3 linked regions of the Homo sapiens genome follow. The protein of the gene in region 3 interacts with the protein of the main gene of each other region in a pairwise test. Each region holds a gene or a part of one and is shown on either strand. Other genes may lie near its edges.

Region 1 (7,669 bases), on a different chromosome or scaffold from region 3:
AGAGAGAGATTCTTTTTCCTGAGGCCTAAAGCACCCCAACATTATAACGTAAGACTGTAATAAGGGTTATGGGAGTTATGAGCCAGGAACTATAACATAAGACTGTAACAAGGGTTATGGGAGTTATGAGCCAGGAAAACGTTGTATATATACAGAGAGAGAGAATCGTAATATCATAGTATTTTTTACAAATTACAATAATTGTTAAAAAGTAACAATAGTAAGCAAGATGGTTTGAGCCACTGAAGAATGCAAAACTCAGAGTCCATTTAGAACTGATCGTCAAAACGGAGAAAAGGGAATCACCTCTGTAGAAGGAAGAAATACAGAAGACAAAATGCAGTCCAAAAAAAAGGGCTACTGTATTGATAAATTCCATTAGAGATAAATGGAAATCCTTTAACAGTTTGTAAAACTGCTGCCAAACATTTTAAACATCATGTAGATCAGTTCATACTCCAGGTCATAAAGTATGAAATTTCTTCCACAATTGACAGGATCAGTGTGGTTAGGGAACATTAAGTGCACACTTCTAAGTACAAACTATAAGGTTTTATTCTACACAGTTACACTACTTTATTAGTCAACAAAATCAAACTATTAGAGCAAAATTACATATGAGTTTCATGTTTTCTTTTAAAAATCGATCTTCTACGCATGATTCTAGTTTTTAATAGTGTTCAGTGCCATTGCCCATGTGGTTTCAAAAAAAACTTTAATAGGATCTACATTAGCATTTTTCTCTATTTTTGCTTACCTTCGGAAATCCTTCCTTTTCAGCTAGTATTACTTTTTTAAAAAGAAGAAAAAAGGCCTACAAAAGTCCAGAATTACTAAAAAAAAGTCCTTGAAATGAACAGCCACATATTAATCACTTTTCTCCTCAGCTCAAATGTTAATTAAGCAAGTTGTAATTTAATCACTGATGTGCAATCAGAATTCATTTTACATTAATCAAACAGTAGAATATAATAATATTCAAAACCTGAGGCTTTCTTTTAAAGAGGAGCACTTCAGAGTGCTTTTGTACCTACCACATGTGAGGCATTAATTCAAGTTGGAGGACAATGACTCAGCTTGAAGGAAGGCGGAGTGGAGTAACAACCTCCCCATTCCTTTAGGAAAACTTTTCTTTCTGGCTAAGGGAGAGGAGAATGAAGTGGTTGAGAACATGCCCTCAACGTTCTGAAGACATGGAGAGATGTGTGTTACTTGTTATGTGGCTCCCTAAAAAGAAACATTACCAGTTAGAGGGACTTCAAGTAACTGAGGCCACCAATTTCTACTTTCGCTCTACTTTTTCTGGGAGTGGAACGGTCAGGTTTGCCAGTATTGTGAAAATCCATGAGGAAGCATTACTTCTCTCTTCCACTTGCCTCATTCTGAGTGGAACCCCAGAACCTGGTGTAGGGCTTAATAATCCAAGAAATTATTTTGAGTGGAGAATCTCTCACTCTCTGGCTCTTTTCTCCCAATAGTAACAATAATAATGCCTCACTTGTTAAGAGATACCGTGGTTATTGAAGTATTTTCTCAGCAAACAGATACTTCATGTTTGGGTGTATTAATGTAGGAAGATAAAGACACACATGCAGTGTTTCCTAAACTTTTTGGCTCACATGCTTCTTTGCTCATGCACAACCTAGACAAAACTATGTAACCAACTCCTGTGTACAGTTTCACGGAATTGCAGGTGCCTAACAAGATTTTCTTTTAACTACACCTGCTCACAAAATTTACACAGTAACTTGAGACAAACGTTCACAGGAAGTAGATAAAACTTTTCAATACACCGTTAAAGTCTTTCCAAAAATCTATTAACATTAAATTGTTTAGAAATTCTATACAAGTCTACTACTGTATTACCAAATAAATTCTTAAGCAAGAAAAGGGGAAAACTATCTTTTCATGCTTTCAGGCCAGTAACTAGCACTTAGTCTTCTATGTAGGGAGGTGCCCAATAAATACCGAGAGACGAACGGAACCGCTGAATCCCGTCCGCGAGGTTAGGGGAGAAACAGAAGCGGCAACGTCTCTGCTGCACGAAGCACCCGGTAACTTACTGCCTACCCCTCACTCCTGTCTAATCTTTGCTCTCAATGGATTGCTGGGTTGGTTTTGTTTTATTCATTTTTGTTCTGAAGCAAGGAAACTTAACTTCACGTGGAGGGCCACTGTAAACTGCTGCCTCCCTTAAAAAATGCATAACGAGAAGAGTAAGTTAAAACGTTTGGGGCCACACAGAAGGTTCTAGAAGTTCTGCAGACCCAAGCTGCCACAGTCCTTAATCGCATGGAATCTCACTGTAACTTTTATCTCCTCTGATTTTTTTCCGCTCCCTAACACCTAGGTAAATTAATCAAAGTGTGGCCACCGATAACGCCCTCACAGGTTTAGCTTAAATCGAATGCGTTTTCTCTCGGACTAGGGGAGATAATCCAAGAAACAAACAAAACTACACCACGTCCATCCACAACAAATCTCAACAAGCAACTTCGGTTGCCGCAGCCTCACTGTGCCCCAGGCCCCGGCCCGCCACACGCGGCCTCCGTCCGCTAACCGCCCGCGAACCGCCCGCGCGGCGAGCAGAACGCCCGAGACCGCCCGCCCGGAGCTCACCTGAGCTCCAGCTGGTCCAGGCTCTCCAGCAGGCGGCTGGAGCGGTCAGCCATGGAGGAGGAGCGGCAGAAGCGCCCCTCGTTGGCTTTAGCGTTGATCTTCGCCTGAGCCATCTAAGCCTCCGACGCGGGGTAGCCAAGAGGTCACCGGCCCCTCCGGCGGCAGCGAGTGGAGCGCTCCTTGGGCTGCAGGCGTCGCCGTCACCACGCGGGCGCCCGCCCTCCCTCTGACGCCCGCGGGGGCAACCCGGGAGGACTCGCCGACACCGCGGCTGCAGCGTAGCCAAAGAAGGGCAGGCGCGGCGCCCGCGGGGCTCGGGGACGCCGGGCCTGGGAGGGGGCTGCAGCGGCTGGAGTTAGAGGTTCGCGAGCCACACGGGCTCGAGGATGGGCCGACAGGGGCTCGGGCCTGGGGAGCGCAAGTCTCTGAGGCACGGGAGGGGCGGACGCAGAGACCGAGCGCCTAATGTGGCTAGCGGATCGTCTGCTCCCCGGACCCAGGAACTACCCGAAGCCCGCGCGGACCCACAGACCACCCCCAGCTCCGCCCCGCGAGGCCCCGCCTCTTCATGCAACCTAAAAGTAACCAACTCCCCCCACGCGAAGGTTCCTATCGGTCGACGGGCTGTGGGTGTATTGCTCAGTGACGGCTTCGTTTAGTTTCTCCCAGCACCCATAATTCAAAGCAAGAACAACGACATTATGGGGAGAAAACGTCCTTTTGTGAAACAGAAGGCAGTAAGTACAGCTCGTAGGCAGCCCACACTCACCTGACCTTCCTGTTACCACTTTATACTGAGATGAGAGTAATGAAAGCCCGGACAACACTGAAGCTATGAAGTAAAAAAGAAAAAGCTACTCCATCTTTCCCTGTCTAGCTAGATGTGGGAAGCAAAGTGAATTTACTTCATTTTTACCATTCTAATTTTCTTTTGTTTTTGAGATGGGGTCTAACTGTCGCCCACGTTGGAGTGTAGTGGCGCGATCACGACTTACTGCAGCCTCGACCTCCCGGGTTCAAGCGGTCCTCCCACCTCAGCCTCCCAAAGTGCTGGGATTACAGATGTGAACCACCACGCCTGGCTTAATGAAGGGGTTTTAAATTTTTGCTATTAAAATTATTCCTGTTGAGCGAGCCGAGATCTCGCCACTGCACTCCAGCCTGGGCGATAGAGCGAGACCTTGTCTCAAAAAAATAAATAAATAAATAAATATTCTGAGTGAAATAATTGGCATTAAAAAGTCCTCAACTTTTAAAAATCCTGTTAACAAAAAAGATGCAGTAGGCCTCTAGGTCAGGCACCAGCTGTCGGTAAAAGACGGAATAGAGCTGAGGATACAAAGATTAGTCTACTTAAAAAGTTAGGCTTTAGTCCCCTCTCCTGATAGCTCTATGCCTCTCATTGCAAGGATGACAATGTACAGGGCACAGAAAATGATAGATAATAATAGTTTAAAGCTGAGCCACCACCTTTAATCAGAGATCAAAGCCATTTAAATACTTGAACAGAGTTGAAGCCCTTAAGGCTGGATCCCAATTCCCTCTGAACTCATTTTAAATCCTAATTAACTCTTGGGGTAGGGGATTATTTGACCTTATTAAAAATAACTTTATCATGACACAAACGAAAACAAAACACATTTTGTGAGTGGTTTGAAAGTCTATCAAGTGACTTTAGAATCATCCTGAACTCTTTTTCTCTCTTATCCTAGATCCACACCATTAGTAAACCCCATCAATTTTGCCTTCAGAATATATCCAGATTCTTCCCAATTCTACCGCCACCATTCTGGTTCAAGCTACCTGGTGAGTTTGCACCTGGAATACTACAATACCTTCCTCTCTGGTCTCCCTGCTTCTACTCTTGCCTCTCATGTACATGTTATCTCAGTGCAGCAACTACAGCAATCCTAAATAAGGCAGATCATACCATTTATTCTCAGAAACCTTCACTGGCTCCTTACCTCAAAGTAAAAGCCCAGGTCATTAGAAAAACCTCAGTAAGTTCATTTCCTATTACTCTCCTAGCTCATCCTGTCAGCCATACTAGTCTTCTTGCTTTTCCTTGAATATACTAAGCTCCTGTCTGGACCTTAACCTCCTCCACCTGGAACTCTCTTCCCGATATGTATTTTCATCCTCATTCCCTCACCTTCTTCAGGTCTTTGCTCAAGTTTACCTATCAGTGAGATCTTTTCTGACAACCCTATTAAAAATAGCAAGCCTCCCCCCAACTCCCTGTCCCTGCACTATTTATTCCCTTCCCTTCTTTATTTTCCGTCGTTACACGTATCACCATCAGATATGCAGTTTTATTGCCTTGCTTACTAACATTGTACAATCCCCTCCTCTCCACCAATATGTGCTCCACAGAGGGGTAAGGGCTTTGTTTTGCTTACTGGTATATTCCAAGTGCTTAGAACAGTTGCTGGCACATGGTGGGTACTCAATATTTTGTGATTGAATGAATTAATGAGTGAATGATGTAATGAAAAGATAAGCATCTTTGTCAATGTTAGAAACATTTACTTCTGACGATAATCCATATAGCTTTCTCTGATGTTACACAGCGATTACATCTCCTTGTGTCTAAATTAAAGTCAAAGTATGAATTTTAAGATGATTTTTAATTATTTAACAAGTAGAAATACGATCAGTGACAATTATCAATTAAAACATTAAACAACCCAGTTACCTTTTCTTAACAGTCATGATGAAATATCCCTTTCCTGTCTTATCAGAAGCCTTAATTATTCTCTACCACACACACCACAAAAGCTTCTTAATAGAGCATCAGTGTCCATCACACCTTTGTGTAGAATCTCTGGCAACAAGGTGCTGTCTCCTCTTGCCCTGCCCCCACATCTGCTTAACTACTCTTCTTTCTGGAATGCCTCTTTTGCTCCCATTTTGTGAGCTCCTGCAGATGTGTTTAAGGTCCAGCTCAGTGACTACCTCCTAGAGCCTTGCTTGACCACTTAAACATACAAACTAAAAGCACAATGTGGTCATTTCGGAAAGATGATTGATAAATTCTCAAGCCACAATGTCTAGTTTTTAAAAAATGCAAGCAGGGAGGAACAGAAGTGACATATCAAGAAATTAAAAACACAAATTATAGATTGAAAAGACTATAGTAATAAAAAAATTCAATTTCACACTAAAATATTTAGTGTTACAGAGAAGGAACCAAATTCTAGCCTTTATATTTTGTCTTAAATATAAAGAAAAGCTTTATATTTATAGAAATGTTTTTAAGTTTGGTAAATAATTACTACTAAAAATTTTTAGAGATAAGACATTTCTGGTTAAATAACATGAAGCATATACACAAAGATAATATGACAAGCCCTTCTTAGTCTTCTACTTATGTCGTATTTTTTATTACTCACAATGGGGCCTCAATATTTAAGAATTAAATATGTAATACCAAATGAAGGAAACTGACAATTCAGTGAATAACTAAACTGAAAACACTTCACATGAAATAAAAATTTAAAGAGTTAAGGAAGATTATTCCTGAGTAGGCTTTCAACATTATTTCTTGAAGAATATTATGTTTACACCAATATATAAAAAAGGACTGTTATGAAAAATAATTTTATGCAAATATTCTGACACCATTCCCTTTAACCAGGAGACCATACAAGTCACATAAAAGTCTAAGCAGGTAAAAGGAATGGAAATTGTTTCATTTAAATTATTTCTTAAAAATTAAGGTGTATTTTTTATTTTAGCAATGTGCTGCTCTAATTAAAGCAATAATTTACATATGCATGGCACCCACAAAGAACATTGCTGATAAAATTTTAAATGTTTCCATGATCAGTTTCCATTACCCTCTTCTAATAAACATAAACAAAGATCTCAAAGGTATTATATAATAGTGCCACATGAGAAGTAGAATTTATGGAAAACTTGACCTATGTCACCTTTTTTATATTCATTTTCACTGCTAAAAAAATAAACTAGCATCATTTGTACAGTACAAATAAAATTAAAGAACTAATGCTATTTGGGAAACAACTGTCAAGAGCTTTCCTTTTTTTTAATCCTTTAAATCTAAATATATAAATTCAAAGTTAACTGGGAAACTGTTACACCTATATTAGAATACATAATTTATATTTGCATGAACATGTATTCTATTTCTTCTGTACATGTTTGCACATTAGCACAAAAATACAAAACAAAGATCAGATTTTGAACATATGAAAGCAAAAACATGTTTTCAAATACATTTGTAATAGTGGATTTCTGGTCTCCTTTAGAAAACAAACTCAAGAATTCGTTATCTCAGTCTCTTCAAGGCCACTTGATGTTGTGTGGTAATATCTTTAATTACATTTCCTCAAGACTTCTTCTAATAGCTTCTTCTAATTCCACATCTGCATTAAAAAACATAGAATTTTAACACTTAGGGCAGAAAACTCAACATGTGCTGTATTTATTTAAGTTTCATCGACTGTATTCTTTTCAAGAAGGAAAGTAAAATCAAAATGGAAAAACACAGGATAACTTGGCAGTTTCTCTACTAAAAAATTGAGTATTTTGAAATATGAAAATCTAGACATGATCTTGAATTGAATTTTATATATGAACTTAGAACTTGCAAGTTAATTCCACTTAGGAATGTAGAAAGTCAACAAACTTTTAAAATCACTGACAGGTAATCATTTGTTTCAACATTTAAAAAAAAATCTGTATCACTTATTTGCTAAAAGACTTGAGGTGATACATATAAGACTTTAAACAGAAAGGCAACTCCATGAAATGACAAAATGTCACAGGCCATTAAAAATTTAGTTTAATTTTTAATTATACCTCAATAAAGCTGGGGAAAAATTAGCTTAAAGCATCCTAGCATCTAAGGTAGTGAAACTCATAGCCACATAAATGTCATCTGAGAAGCATATAATATATGCTGTATGCAGATGTATGTAAACTCATTTGACAAATATTTATTGAATGCCCATTATATACCAGGAACAGCAATGTAATAGTGAACAAGACAGACGTTATTGGGTTCACAATAGTTGAGTTCCATCTC
Region 2 (7,109 bases), on a different chromosome or scaffold from region 3:
ACTTTTCTCCTTCCGTTATATTTGGGATCTCTCAGTAGAAATGTAATGTTATTAAGGTTTACATTGAAGTGCCAATTTATGCTTACTTGGTGACAGTGATATATTTTGTAATGTCTAAATATGACAACACTACTTGATTATCAGGTTTATCCTCTTAAATTTGTCTTTATGAATATTTGAAATATAGAATATAGACATTAGTATATATTAATGTATAAAGTTGAAATTGAAAAGGCTCATGTCAGTCATATTCATGTTCAAACATAATTCTAAAGAAAATAGCTTTAATCTGTAAATTGGTTAAGAACCTATCCCTATCCTCTACTTTTAGTAACTTGAGTTACCTTGCCAAATTAAAGTTCAAAAGTTACTTTGTAGATGAATACGAAACCAACAGTTTTTTCCTTCTTTTTCTTTATTTACAGCCTGGTCTGCCACCTCAGAACTTTTCAATGTCTGTCACAGTTCCAGTGACCAGCCCCAATGCTTTGTCCTACACTAACCCAGGGAGTTCACTGGTGTCCCCATCTTTGGCAGCCAGCTCAACGTTAACAGATTCAAGCATGCTCTCTCCACCTCAAACCACATTACATAGAAATGTGTCTCCTGGAGCTCCTCAGAGACCACCAAGTACTGGCAATGCAGGTATGTAGTGATACCTATTATGCTGGTTCTTTAATAAAGAGGGTGAAAAAATTCATTGCTAACATAAGCAGTTTCTTATTTTGCTATTCTTTTATTGCTTTGATGAGCAAGAATCACTGATACATAATTGGCCTCATTTTAAAGTATTTTTTTGAAAATCAATTGTGGGTGTAGCATTGTGTCATGCAAAGTAGAACAGTACTGAGAACCTGCCATTTATATGCTTTCCTTCTCATGGGAAAGCCATACTTTGACAGGCAGAAAATTTAGTTAGATATCAGAAGCAAGGATTTAAAGTAGAGTGTGAGCCATTCATGTTAGAAATATGGGTGATAGACTACCTGATTGGAGTTAGAGTATCTTTTACATCTCCTCCTGCCTGAATTACTTCATTAATTCAGCAAAATTTATGTTACATTTATTGTATTAGTCTATGAAATGCAGTGTCTCCTCTCTCTTAAGTCCTAGATTTAATTTAGTGATTTAATCATACTCCTTACACACTGCCCCCGTTTTTATCAGTATGTACTATTTTGGTATTGATGCAATACCACTATTTGGTATTGAAGGCGACATCAAGCTTGAAAGGTAAACTCATATATATGAGATATAATAACTACATCAGATTACATGTTAATGCCAACTTCAGACTGAGCTAGTTTTTATTTTTGTGTCTTTTTAGGATTAGAGTGAGAGTTATCTCTATTCAGTTCACGTTCAGTTAGGTAAAGAGAGCTAATTCATATTCATTCTCTGCCCTCTGTCTTCTCTCCGTAACGTTGTTAGGTGGGATGTTGAGCACTACAGACCTCACAGTGCCAAATGGAGCTGGAAGCAGTCCAGTGGGTGAGTGAATTCCTACTCTTCTGTTTTGTAGGTATCTATCCTATATGAGATCAAAGGAATGTTGTTCCTGAAATAAAGCTTTCTGGGAAATTTCCTTCTGAAGGGTACTTTCACTAATACATCAAGATAATTTCTTAAGGGGAGACTTTCTCTAACTTCCCTGCTTACCAAAGTTAGACTGTTACCAAACTACTCTATCTTACAACAGCATGAAATGTTTTCAGAGAGACTAGAATGAAAAGAAATGGTGGGTCTATCTACTTCTACAGATAGAAAGATAATTAACATATTTGTCTTGGCCGGGCGTCGTGGCTCACACCTGTAATCCCAGCACTTTGGGAGGACGAGGTGGGCAGATTGCCTGAGCTGAAGAGTTTGTGACCAGCCTGGGCAACACTGTGAAACCCTGTCTCTACTAAAATACAAAAAAATTTAGCTGGGCGTGGCAGTGTGCACCTGTAGTCCCAGCTATTCGGGAGGCCGAGGGAGGAGAATTGCTTGAATCCGGGAGGCGGTGGTTGCAGTGAGCTGAGATCGCATCACTGCACTCCAGCCTGGGCGATAGAGTGAGACTCCTTCTCAAAAAAAAAAAAATTATGGAGATGATTGAATGACTTAATAAAAATGATGAGGAAGAAATAAACAAACATCAATAAAGATATTATTAAGACAAGTTACAAAATATTTAATGACAAAGTAGGAATAAATGCCTAATTATATCTGCCACAGTATTAAATATTTTAATGGAATTAAACAGATAAGACCTATTGTGGAGTCTTACTTAACAGAAAACAATTAAATGTGGGAAAATACATAAAGGTTGTACCAGTTAAACACTAGGGCTGCTACTCTTGTATGTGTATTTCCAAATATTTATGGTTTTTTTTCAGCTCTTGTTTTAGTTGTTTGTATGCCTACATACTGTTTTTGTGTCCCTTTTTTTTTTTATTCCCCCAACAGAATAATAAGTTCAGGGCCCACCAAGAATTGTGAGAGCCTAATATGCTTCTCTCACATTGGGTTGACACCCCAAAAGGCTGGACTCTAGAAGTAAAGTAAACCAGAGATAAACAGTTCTTCTCAGTAGTGACATCTTACAGATGCATCATACAGTTTTGTTTTTTTTTTTTTGAGACGGAGTCTCGCTCTTGTCGCCCAGGCTGGAGTGCAGTGGCGCCATCTCCGCTCACTGCAAACTTCACCTCCCGGGTTCACGCCATTCTGCCTCAGCCTCCCGAGTAGCTGGGACTACAGGTGCCCGCCACCACGCCGGGCTAATTTTTTTGTATTTTTAGTAGAGACGGAGTTTCACCGTGTTAGCCAGGATGGTCTCAATCTCCCGACCTGGTGATCTGCCTGCCTTGACCTCCCAAAAGTTTGTTAAAATTAGATCGTAGTGATTAGAAATTAGATTTAGGGGTTCCAGAATGCCCGGAAAAGCAAATAGTCTCTGGAAGAATAAAATAAGCCTGGCCCACATGGCAAAACCCCATCTCTACTAAAAATACAAAAATTAGCCGGACGTGGTGGCAAGTGCCTGTAATCCCAGCTACTCAGGAGGCTGAGGCAGGAGCATCACTTGATCCCAGGAGGCGGAGGTTGCAGTGAGCCGAGATCATGCCACTGCACTCCAGCCTGTGCGACAAGAGCAAAACGCTGTCTCAAAAATAAATAAATAAATAAATAAATAAAATAAAACACCATCTCAGACCTTATTATTTCTAACTTGGCACATAAGCTGAACTAGGCACACACACAAATAAAGCAAATGAAAACTTGCAGAAATAAACAAACAATGGAATCAGCCTCCTGGGAACTCCAGAATTTGGAGTTACTAGGCACAGACTTTGACTTTAATATAACAGTGTTTACTGTGTTCAAGGGTATTTAAAAAACAAAAAGATTGAGAATTTTAGCAGAGAACTGAAATTTATTTAAAAAATGGAAATTTTAGAACAAAAAAACCCCGTAATGTTAAGAACTTAACAGATGGGCTTAAAAACAGATTGGACAAAGCAAATACAAGAATTAAGAAACTAAAAGATAAGATAGAAGAAAATTATCCAGAATTTTGGAGACACAAAGGGATGGAAAATTAAAAAGAAGACCCAGAGCATGCAATAAAAAGGACTAGCATACGTTAAATTGAAGTCCCAGGAAGCAAAGTCAGAGAAAATTGGGCAGAAGCAGTATTTGAAGAGATAATCACTGAGAATTTTCCAAAACTAACAACAACAAAAAAGCCACAAATTGGGAAGGCCTATAAAACTCAACGTGGAATACAGATAATGCTGTGCTTTATGAGAAATTTAAACCTTTATGAACAAAAGACTGGAGATGGTGAGCTAAACCTCCTTCTCAGGAAGTCAGAAAAGGACAGCAAATTAAACATAAAGTAGGTAGAACCAAATAACAAAGATACAAGCATTGAAATAGAAAATAGAAAATTTTCTATTTCAGGCATGGTGAAACAGATGATCTCATACGTGCTTTTGTGGTATTGTAAATCAGTAACAATCTTTCTGGAAAGGTTTTGGCAAGATGTTTCAGTGGTCATAAAAATACAAGTATTGATACTGAAATAGAAAAACAAATTGAATTAACAAAACAAATACTGATTATTTAAAAGACTAATAAAATGGAATGTTTTCACTAATATTCAATTCGAAATATTTTCTAATTTCCATTATATCTTTTTCTTTAACCCAACTTGTAAGTTATTTAGAATTATATTTCTTAATTTCAAATACATGGAGATTTTCCAGTTATCTTTGAGATATTATTTTCTAGCCAGATTGTTTTGTTACCAGAGAACTTACCTCTATATGATTAAGTTCTCTGAAATTTGCTGATACTTTTTTATAGGCCAGCATGTGCTCAATTTTTGTCTGTGTTGTGTACTGGAAAGGAATGTTTATTCTGTATTATAAGCATGGATTGCAAATTCTACTTGTTTTAAATACGTTTTATCTGTATATATGTCATAACTTACTGTATCAGCTCCAGTTTAGAAACTCGTGATAGGTCAGTTCCAGATAGTTTTGCGTTACCTTTAAACCATATCATTTTTACCAATATTGTCATTTTCAAATACGTAATTTGTTTATAGGCGAGTCTTCCATTTGCCTTGTTCGTATTTTAATTTTTGTTGCATCTTCTGCCTGCTTCCCTAAAATTGGAATACTTCAGGCCCATGTACTGCTAAAAGAAGAGGCATCCTTGAGACTTTTAAAGCACTGAACGAACTCAGGAAAGGCAAAGACTTCTTAAATAAGAAACCAAAGAAAGTCTAATGGAAAGACTGATTGATTTGCTTGTGTGAAAATTGGAAACTTTGTGAATCAAAAGCACTGTAAAGAGAGTAAAAAGGCAAGACAGAATGGGAGAATATATATAGTATGTATACAATCAATAGAGAGGTTTTTTTTTAAGAATACCTACAAATCAGTAAGAAAAAGAAAACTCGACTTTTGAAAATGTGCATGAGAACACATCACTTCACAAAAGAAATGTCTGATAAATGTGAAGAAATGCTCAGTCTCAGTAGTCATGGAAATGCAAAATTAAACCACAAAGAGAGAACACTGCACACCCACCAGAATTGCTAAGATGAAATAGATGGTATACCAAATATTGACAAAGCTATGAAAAAGCACAAACTCATACACTGGTAATGGGAGTACAAGTTGTTGCAACCATTTGGCATTATCTGCCTAAGCTGCAGATACGTGTATTGTGTGACCCAGCATTTTCACTCATCCTTATGTACTGTAGAGAAATGCATTTGTGCATCACGAGTACCAAGAGATATGTAAAAGAATGTGTACAACATTATGTTAAAGTCATTGTCTAGAAATAGTACAGATCTCTGTCAACAGTAGAATGGATAAATATAAGAGTACATTCATATGAAAGAATATTATACTGCAGTGAAAATGAAATCACAGCAGTTCTCAACATGGATGAATGTCACCAAACATTATGAATTAAAGAAGATAGATACATACTCAAGATTCTAACTATATAAAGTTTGAAAAGCAGGCCAAAAAAACTATAGTGTTTGGGATGCTTGTGTAGATAGATGGCAGAGCCATAAAGAAAAACCAAGAAATTACTGTAAAATTCACAATAGTGGTTACTTTGGGTAGGTGGGACTCTCGGAATATTTTAGGGGGCCCAATTATGGAAACTTCTGGGGTTCTGGCAGTATTCTTAATCTGAATGGTGGTTACGTGGATCTTCACTTTATGATAAATCCTTAACCTATACGTTTTTGTTTTGTACATTTTCTGTTTATGTGTTACATTAGCAAGAAAACAGTTTTGAAAATAAAAGAATACACTAGATATAATAATAAAGGAACTATAACAACAAATATAAAGGCACTTTTTAAATTATAAGAGAAAATAATGTACATTTTGTGGTATTTATACTATTCCAAAATTCAGAGAGAAAATGTATAGACACTCAACACTCACATTCATGCACAAACTAGAGGTAGCCTTTGAGTCTTTGGACATTGTTGTCTGCATGTGGCAGCTGGAACTCAGCACCCATCTTAAGATCATGAGACAAGTCAGTTTAAGATGACAGGTCAAAATGCCAAGGTTGATGAAGTGAAAAGCTGGTGGCCCTCAGTGTTGAGCTGCTGAAGCAGCTGAGTCTGGGACCACTCTTCCCCTAGTCTTTTTATGTGAGATAATACGTGTTGCTCATTCTCCAGAGGAAAAAAGCAAGATAAAATCCAAGCAACAGATAGGGGAATGTTTAGTAATGGGCATTTAATTGTACCAAAATACACAATTCAAAAAAGAAACCTAACTAGTATTTTAAAAACTGAAAAGGTTGTTCATCATTGGTAGTATTCATGAAATTCAAATTAAAATGACAAAAAAAAATACTACTCTTACTTACTAATTCCCAACTATTAGCACTTTTTATTGTGATATTCAGTGCTAATGAAGGCATGGTGAAACTGATGATCTCATGCATGCTTTTGTGGCATTGTAAATTAGTAACAATCTTTCTGGAAAGGTTTTGGCAAGAGGTTTTAGTTGTCATAAAAATGTTTATACCTCCAAGCCCACTAATCCCATTTTTGGGAATCTCTCCTGAAGAGGTAAGTTAGAATAAGCAAAGCTTCATTGCAACTTTATTTGTAGTAATGAATAATAGGAAGAAATCAACATATTCAACAATATGAAAATGAAGTAAATGAAATTTCAACTGAATTTCTTTTTAGTTGTGATTTAAAACGAGCAAAAAATATGAGCATGGAAAACAAAAAGGGAAAAATCCAAAGAGATTATAATACTTAAGATGGTGGGACTGTGTTTTTCACTCTTTTTCTAGTTTCAGTGATGCTGTATTAATACAGTTACCTCTACAGTCATAACATCTTTATTGTAGTAAATTAGAATATTTCTTTATTTATTACTTATAACTTGTTTTCCATTGTCATCTGTGCAAATAAAACTTGGCAGCTTTGTACATATTGTAATTTGTATAGATCTTTCATAGAGGTAATTTGCTTATTTGTTTATGATTTACTAGGTATATTTCTCTATGGGGAGTTTAATACTGGGTTTATACTATAGTTCAAATGACTTTGGGGACTT
Region 3 (7,216 bases):
AAAAATCAGGATTCTTATGGCAAATCTCCCCATTTTTGACAGGCAAATAATTCCAAGCTTTTAAAAAGCACCGTGTGAGTCATTCTCTCATACCACTGGTGGGTGTCTAAATCAGTATAATCTCTAAGGATAGAAATTTGACATTAGCTACTAAAATTGTAAGAACAATACTCTTTAACTTGACACTCCCACTTCTGGTATTCTTCCTGCATATACACTTGCTGTGTGCAAAATGATGTGTTCAAGAAAATTTATTGCAGCATTGTTTGCAATAGTGAAAAAACTGAACTCATCTAAATGTCTATCTAGGGGGTCTTGGTTAAATAGGTTATATTCGTAAAGGAATATCATGCAGCTGTAAAAATGAGTGCTTTTTTTTTAGATATGACAATAGCACAAGTGACAAAAGACAAAACAGATAACTGGACTTCATCAAAATTAAAAACTTTTGTGGAACAGAGGATGTTATCAAGAAAGTGAAAAGACGATCTGAGAAATGGAAGTAAATATCTGTAAATCATGGGAAGTAAATATCTGTAAATCATCTAATAAGGTAATATCTGTATCTGTAAATCATCTGATAAGGGACTTTTGTTTAGAATATATAAAGAACTCTGACAGCTCAACAATAAAAAGGCAAATAATCCAATTAAAAATGGACAGAGGGCTGATGCGGTGGCTCATGCCTGTAATCCCAGCACTTTGGGAGGCTGACGTAGGCCGATCACTTGAGCTCAGGAGTTCAAGACTAGCCTGGCCAACACAGTGAGACCCTGTCTCTGCTAAAAATACAAAAATTAGCTGAGTGCAATGATGTGTGCCTGTAGTCCTAGCTACTTGAGAGGCTGAGGCAGGAGAATCACTTGAGCTTGGGAGGCGGAGGCTGCAGTGAGCTGAGATCCTACCACCGCACTCTAGCCTGGGCTGGAGTGAAACCCTGTCTCAAAAAGAAAAAAAAAAAAGGTCAAAGGATTTGAATAGATATTGAACAGACATTTCCCCAAAGGAGACAAATGGCCAATAAACCGTGAAAACATCCTTAGTCATTAGGGAAATGCAAATCAAAACTACAATGACGTATCACTTCACACCCACTAGGATGGCTATAATTAAAAAATAATAATAATAATAAGGCTGGGTACTGTGGCTCATGCCTGTAATCCCAGCACTTTGGGAGGCTGAGGCAGGTGGATCACTTGAGGTCAGGAGTTCGAAACCAGCCTGACCATCTCTAATAAAAATATAAAAATTAGCTGGACATGGTGGTGGGGACCTGTAATCCCAACTACTCGGGAAGCTGAGGGAGAAGAATTGCTTGAACCTGGGGTGCAGATGTTGCAGTGAGCCGAGATCGTGCCAGTGCACTCCAGCCTGGGCGATAGAGTGAGACTCAGTATCAGAAAAAGAAAAGAGGTGTTGGTGAGGATGTGGAGAAATCGGAACTCTTAAATATTGCTGGTGAATTTGTAAAATGGTGCAACTGCTGGAGAAAACAGCTTGGCACTTTCTCAAGAAGTTAATAGTTTACCATGTGACCCAGCAATCCCACTCCCAAGAGAAAGGAAAACATGTCCACAAAAAAACTTGTAAACAAATGTTCTCAGAAGCATTATCATAATAGCCAAAAAGTTGAAACAACCCAAATGTTCATAAACTGATGGATAAACAAAATATGGTATATCTAAACAATGCAATATATTTGGCCATAAAAATTAGTGCTAATATGACAACATGAACTTTATGCTAAGTGAAATAAGCCAAACACAAAAGACTACACAGTGTGTGATTCCATTAGTATAGAGCATCCACAATACGCAAGTCCATAGAGACAGAAAGTAGTTCAGTGGTTGCAAGGGCTCTGGTGAAAGAGGAATGAGGAGTGACCGTTAATGGGTATAAACCAAAAATAAAATTAGAAGGCCCTTTGCAACCATCTGAATGGACTCCCTCCTTGGCCAGCACACCCTAAAATTTAACCTGAAAGACTGGTTCAGGCCACGATGGGAGGTGAGAGTTGGACATGCCTTATTATACCCCTCCAACATTAACATCAACACTGACCTTAAGTCTGATAAGAAATATTTGTCTATTCTCTCTATAGCCTGCTACTGGGAGGCTTCAACTGCATAATAAAACCTAGGTCTCCTGGCCAGGTGCAGTGGCTCACGCCTGTAATCCCAGCACTTTGGGAGGCCGGGAGCAGGGGGGCGTGGATGACTTGAGGTCAGGAGTTCGAGACCAGCCAGGCCAACAGGGTGAAACCCCATCTCTACTAAAATACAAAAAAAAAAAAAAAAAAAAAAAAAAAGCCGGGCTTGATGGCTCATGCCTGTGATCCCAGCTATTCGGGAGGCTGAGGCAGGAGACCAGGAGGGGGAGGTTGCAGTGAGCCGAGATCGCACCACTGCACTCCAGCCTGGGCAACAGAGTGAGACTCACTCTTCAAATAAAATAAAATAAAATAAAATAAAATAAAATAAAATAAAATAAAATAAACAACCAAAAAACCCTAGGTCTCCACAACCCCTTATCATAACCCAGATATTCCTTTCTATAGATAATAACTCTTGTAACCAACTGCCAATCAGGATATGTTTAAATCTACCTGTGACTTGGAAGCCCCTCCCCTTTGAGTTGTCCCGCCCTTCCAGAATAGACATTGAACAGACATTTCCCCAAAGGAGACAAATGGCCAATAAGCACATCAAATCAATGTCAATCTTGCATGTATTGACTTATGTATTATGTCTTCCTGAAATGTATAAAGGCTGACTATGCCCCGACCATCTTGGGCACATGTTGTAGGACCTCCTGAGGCTGTCACCACCATGTCCTTAACATTGGCAAAATAAACTTTCTAAATTGACTTGAGACTTGTCTCAGATACTTGGTTCACATAGGTTTCTTTTAGGGGCGATGAAAATGTTCCATAAACCACTCTACCTAAAATTAGGTAGTGATGATGGCTGCTCAACTGTGAATATACCAAAAAACACTGAATTGTACACTATAAAAGGATGAGTTTTATGGTATGTTATTAAAAGTTGTTTAAAAGTGAGGGACCCCTCCAGTTATTGATATGGAATGATCTTCAGGAAAAGAGCATAATATGCTACATTTTTGTACACCAAAGGGGAGGTAGGTACGAATATGCATACATATTGCTTTTTTCTAGAAGCCGCCTAGGAGTGAAACCAAAATTCTTCACTTCTTTTCGGCCCTACCTCGAGCTCCCTTTAGAAAACCTTTCCTTCCAGCTCACAGTATCCACCATGTCCACCTTCGCCTCCCGGCACTGAGCCTTAGAGGGGCGGTGCTCCATAAACATTTGCTACATGAATGAACGAATAAACTATCGGATTTTGGGGTGGGTCGGGACAGCTCGGTTCCAGCGAGGGCTCCGCCCACCCGCGGGCTCCGCAGAGGAGCAGAGGTTGGGCGGCCGCCTCGGTTAACTCCGCTGCAGCCCAAAGCACGGGAATCGCGGGACAGACAAACGAGCGGAGGGAAGATACCTAGAAGCCAGGAAACCGCGAGCTGCAGTCCAACTTGGCCGGAAGCTGCGGAGAGGCTCAGCCACCGGAAGTCAGTGGAGGGTTCGGCCGGACGCTCTAGAATCCCGGAGGACCGGGATCTCTGTGGTTGGCCGTGACGGGCACCCTCTACCGGGGATGACACATTCCCAGAGCTCCTGGGACCAAGCAAATGGCGGACACAATTCCCTGGGCGGAAGGGGACTTCGGGAGCCAGTAGCCAAGGTAACAGTCCCAGACCTGGGCATCTCAGGCCGGGCAGTTCCCCGAGCTCACGGGACTAGCTGTGATTGGCCGGATGAGGTTGAGAGCTTCATGGGGACGCGCGCGCTACGTGCAGGGGCGTTGCCTTCCATTCACTTGGCGCCCGACTGCCAGTGCGCATGCGTTTGAAGGCGGTGCAGGGCGGGGAGCACACCCCTGCGAAGTGCCGGGCACCCTTTGGGCGGCTCCCGCCGGCGAGCTGGACAGCGGCGCGCGCCAGGCGTGGCTTTCTCGGCCGGTGGGCTAGGATTGGACGCAGTAGGTAGAAGGGGCAGGACCCTCCGCAGCAGTAGCTCAGCGATTGGCCAGGAGCTGGAGGGAGCGTGGCCTTGGGAGGCGGGGCGGAGGGGGACGGACAGGGCAGCTCAAGACGCTGAGGTGGTGGCTGCGGCCTTTGAACAAGTAAGTGAGCCACCCTCGGAGACCCCCGCGCTGGGGACGGGAGGCCGGCGAGCCTCGGGACCTCTGAAAGCCTTGAGGAGGCGCGGGGGTGAGTGCGGCCCTGAGGAAACCCAGGTGCCCCGCCCCTCCCTTTCTTCCTGGCCCGCGCCTCGCCTACCCCTCCCCCGACCCTGGCGGGCCCCCGGCTCTGGGCCCGGACCCCTGGGGTAGCTAGTCTGCCACGAACCAGCCGCGCGCTTCTGCCCTTGTCGGTTTAGGAAACTGGGAAGTTCCCTGGTCCTGCTCCCCAGCCCGCAGAGGGGACACTGAGGCCCACGGTAGGTGGTCCTCTCCTCACCCGAGTCTCCACACAGACACCATGGCCGAGCCTCTGAAGGAGGAAGACGGCGAGGACGGCTCTGCGGAGCCCCCCGGGCCCGTGAAGGCCGAACCCGCCCACACCGCTGCCTCTGTAGCGGCCAAGAACCTGGCCCTGCTTAAAGCCCGCTCCTTCGATGTGACCTTTGACGTGGGCGACGAGTACGAGATCATCGAGACCATAGGCAACGGGGCCTATGGAGTGGTGTCCTCCGCCCGCCGCCGCCTCACCGGTGAGCTTCCTGAGCCGTCGCCTCCCAGATGTGGCAGCGTCGCAGGGAGTGGGAAACCGGCCTGTCCCAGACAGCCGGGAAGGAAAGCGGGGTGCGAGTTCTGGCTCCAGTCAACACACACTGACCAGGGCCTTCTGCCTGCCAGGCTCCGGGGAGGCTCGGTTCTCTGAAACTCCGGCCTGGTGGTTTTGCCATCCTGCCTGCCTACTTCCTCCTTAGGAAAATGATAGTCCCAGTTAGACCAGAATGGAGAGCCAGTCCTTCGTGTCTAAGAGAGAAATGTGTTCTGGAGCCAGACACTGGCATAAGGAACTGGTGGTGGGATGGGTGAGGTCTGAGATGGAGAGGGTGTAGGCATAAGAGGCTGAGCTACACCACTGGGCATCCGTGCAACCTCCAACAAGTTACTAAGCCATATTTCCTTCTCTTTAACGTTGACCTATTGGGACCTGCCCCGCAGGGGAGTTGTGAAGGTAACATTTAATAATGTAGGTAACATGCTTAGCACAGGGCTTGGCACATAGTAGGTACCCAATACTTGGTAGCTGTTGTCATTTGCATCCTAGAAGGGAGGTGTTGATAGGGGCTGAGTCGACTCTGCAGTTTCTCCAAGGTATCCTCTGGTATGTCCCTTTTCCCTGCTCCTCAGGCCAGCAGGTGGCCATCAAGAAGATCCCTAATGCTTTCGATGTGGTGACCAATGCCAAGCGGACCCTCAGGGAGCTGAAGATCCTCAAGCACTTTAAACACGACAACATCATCGCCATCAAGGACATCCTGAGGCCCACCGTGCCCTATGGCGAATTCAAATCTGTGTAAGAAGCGGGATGGGAGAGGGAGCCAGACTTGGGACTTTTCTGAAGGCTGCAACCATGTTGCCGAAGTTCTGGAAAGGCAGCTGAATCTAATCTGAAGCAGGCTGGGAAAATTCCCGCAGTTCTAGGACCAGTTCTTTAGAGTTTTGCCAGGGACAACTGTTATTCCTCAAGAAGTGTACAGATGATTTTACAGTTTTATAGAATCTTAGTATATAGGATGTCAAATGTAGGACATTCCTACTATGACCACACCCTCCTATTCCCATAGCAGACTTCACTAATCAATCACAGAACACTTTCCTACAGACAGTGGACAAGCCTGGTCAATTTTCATCATAGTTCTTCAAGCTGCCACTACCAAACAATGGAGATAGCCCCAAAAGGAAACCTATTGGCCAGCCCTGGTGTAGTCCAACCCCATCTTTTATCTGATGGGGAAACTAGGTCTGGAGACAAAAGTGATTTAACCAAGTTCATGGAAAAGTCGTAGAGAATCTAAAACGTGATGCTCTTCTTCCATACCATGCCGTCAGCCCCTATGGGGTCCCAGGGTAAGGCTGTTACCTGTCTGGAATCGGAAGGGTGTGGTGAGGATGGGGCTTGTCCCTGGAGTGTGATCAGGCCAACCCATGCTTCTCTCCTTCCTTCCCCTTCCAGCTACGTGGTCCTGGACCTGATGGAAAGCGACCTGCACCAGATCATCCACTCCTCACAGCCCCTCACACTGGAACACGTGCGCTACTTCCTGTACCAACTGCTGCGGGGCCTGAAGTACATGCACTCGGCTCAGGTCATCCACCGTGACCTGAAGCCCTCCAACCTATTGGTGAATGAGAACTGTGAGCTCAAGATTGGTGACTTTGGTATGGCTCGTGGCCTGTGCACCTCGCCCGCTGAACATCAGTACTTCATGACTGAGTATGTGGCCACGCGCTGGTACCGTGCGCCCGAGCTCATGCTCTCTTTGCATGAGTATACACAGGCTATTGACCTCTGGTCTGTGGGCTGCATCTTTGGTGAGATGCTGGCCCGGCGCCAGCTCTTCCCAGGCAAAAACTATGTACACCAGCTACAGCTCATCATGATGGTGCTGGGTACCCCATCACCAGCCGTGATTCAGGCTGTGGGGGCTGAGAGGGTGCGGGCCTATATCCAGAGCTTGCCACCACGCCAGCCTGTGCCCTGGGAGACAGTGTACCCAGGTGCCGACCGCCAGGCCCTATCACTGCTGGGTCGCATGCTGCGTTTTGAGCCCAGCGCTCGCATCTCAGCAGCTGCTGCCCTTCGCCACCCTTTCCTGGCCAAGTACCATGATCCTGATGATGAGCCTGACTGTGCCCCGCCCTTTGACTTTGCCTTTGACCGCGAAGCCCTCACTCGGGAGCGCATTAAGGAGGCCATTGTGGCTGAAATTGAGGACTTCCATGCAAGGCGTGAGGGCATCCGCCAACAGATCCGCTTCCAGCCTTCTCTACAGCCTGTGGCTAGTGAGCCTGGCTGTCCAGATGTTGAAATGCCCAGTCCCTGGGCTCCCAGTGGGGACTGTGCCATGGAGTCTCCACCACCAGCCCCGCCACCATGCCCCGGCCCTGCACCTGACACCATTGAT

What was found.
Region 1: the proteins of MAPK7 (region 3) and BAG2 interact in binary tests that used the Homo sapiens proteins (3 or more experiments, as listed by UniProt).
Region 2: the proteins of MAPK7 (region 3) and MEF2A interact in binary tests that used the Homo sapiens proteins (3 or more experiments, as listed by UniProt).

What each region holds. Positions count from the first base shown.
Region 1 is NC_000006.12:57,167,761-57,175,429, reverse strand, and holds the start of BAG2 (BAG family molecular chaperone regulator 2), read right to left. Parts: upstream 3,105-7,669; 5' UTR 2,733-3,104; coding exon 2,620-2,732; intron 2,561-2,619; exon of another isoform or gene 1,969-2,560; intron 1,228-1,968; exon of another isoform or gene 1,049-1,227; coding exon of another isoform or gene 1,035-1,048; intron 1-1,034. Other genes in the region: E3 SUMO-protein ligase ZNF451, read right to left, coding at 6,961-7,007. UniProt on the Homo sapiens protein: Co-chaperone for HSP70 and HSC70 chaperone proteins. Acts as a nucleotide-exchange factor (NEF) promoting the release of ADP from the HSP70 and HSC70 proteins thereby triggering client/substrate protein release.
Region 2 is NC_000015.10:99,673,968-99,681,076, forward strand, and holds part of MEF2A (myocyte-specific enhancer factor 2A), read left to right. Parts: intron 1-425; coding exon 426-645; intron 646-1,431; coding exon 1,432-1,491; intron 1,492-4,680; coding exon of another isoform or gene 4,681-4,784; exon of another isoform or gene 4,785-6,983; intron 6,984-7,109. UniProt on the Homo sapiens protein: Transcriptional activator which binds specifically to the MEF2 element, 5'-YTA[AT](4)TAR-3', found in numerous muscle-specific genes. Also involved in the activation of numerous growth factor- and stress-induced genes.
Region 3 is NC_000017.11:19,374,344-19,381,559, forward strand, and holds the start of MAPK7 (mitogen-activated protein kinase 7), read left to right. Parts: upstream 1-4,154; 5' UTR 4,155-4,287; exon of another isoform or gene 4,288-4,552; 5' UTR 4,553-4,557; coding exon 4,558-4,789; intron 4,790-5,438; coding exon 5,439-5,604; intron 5,605-6,140; coding exon of another isoform or gene 6,141-6,158; intron 6,159-6,264; coding exon 6,265-7,216. UniProt on the Homo sapiens protein: Plays a role in various cellular processes such as proliferation, differentiation and cell survival. The upstream activator of MAPK7 is the MAPK kinase MAP2K5.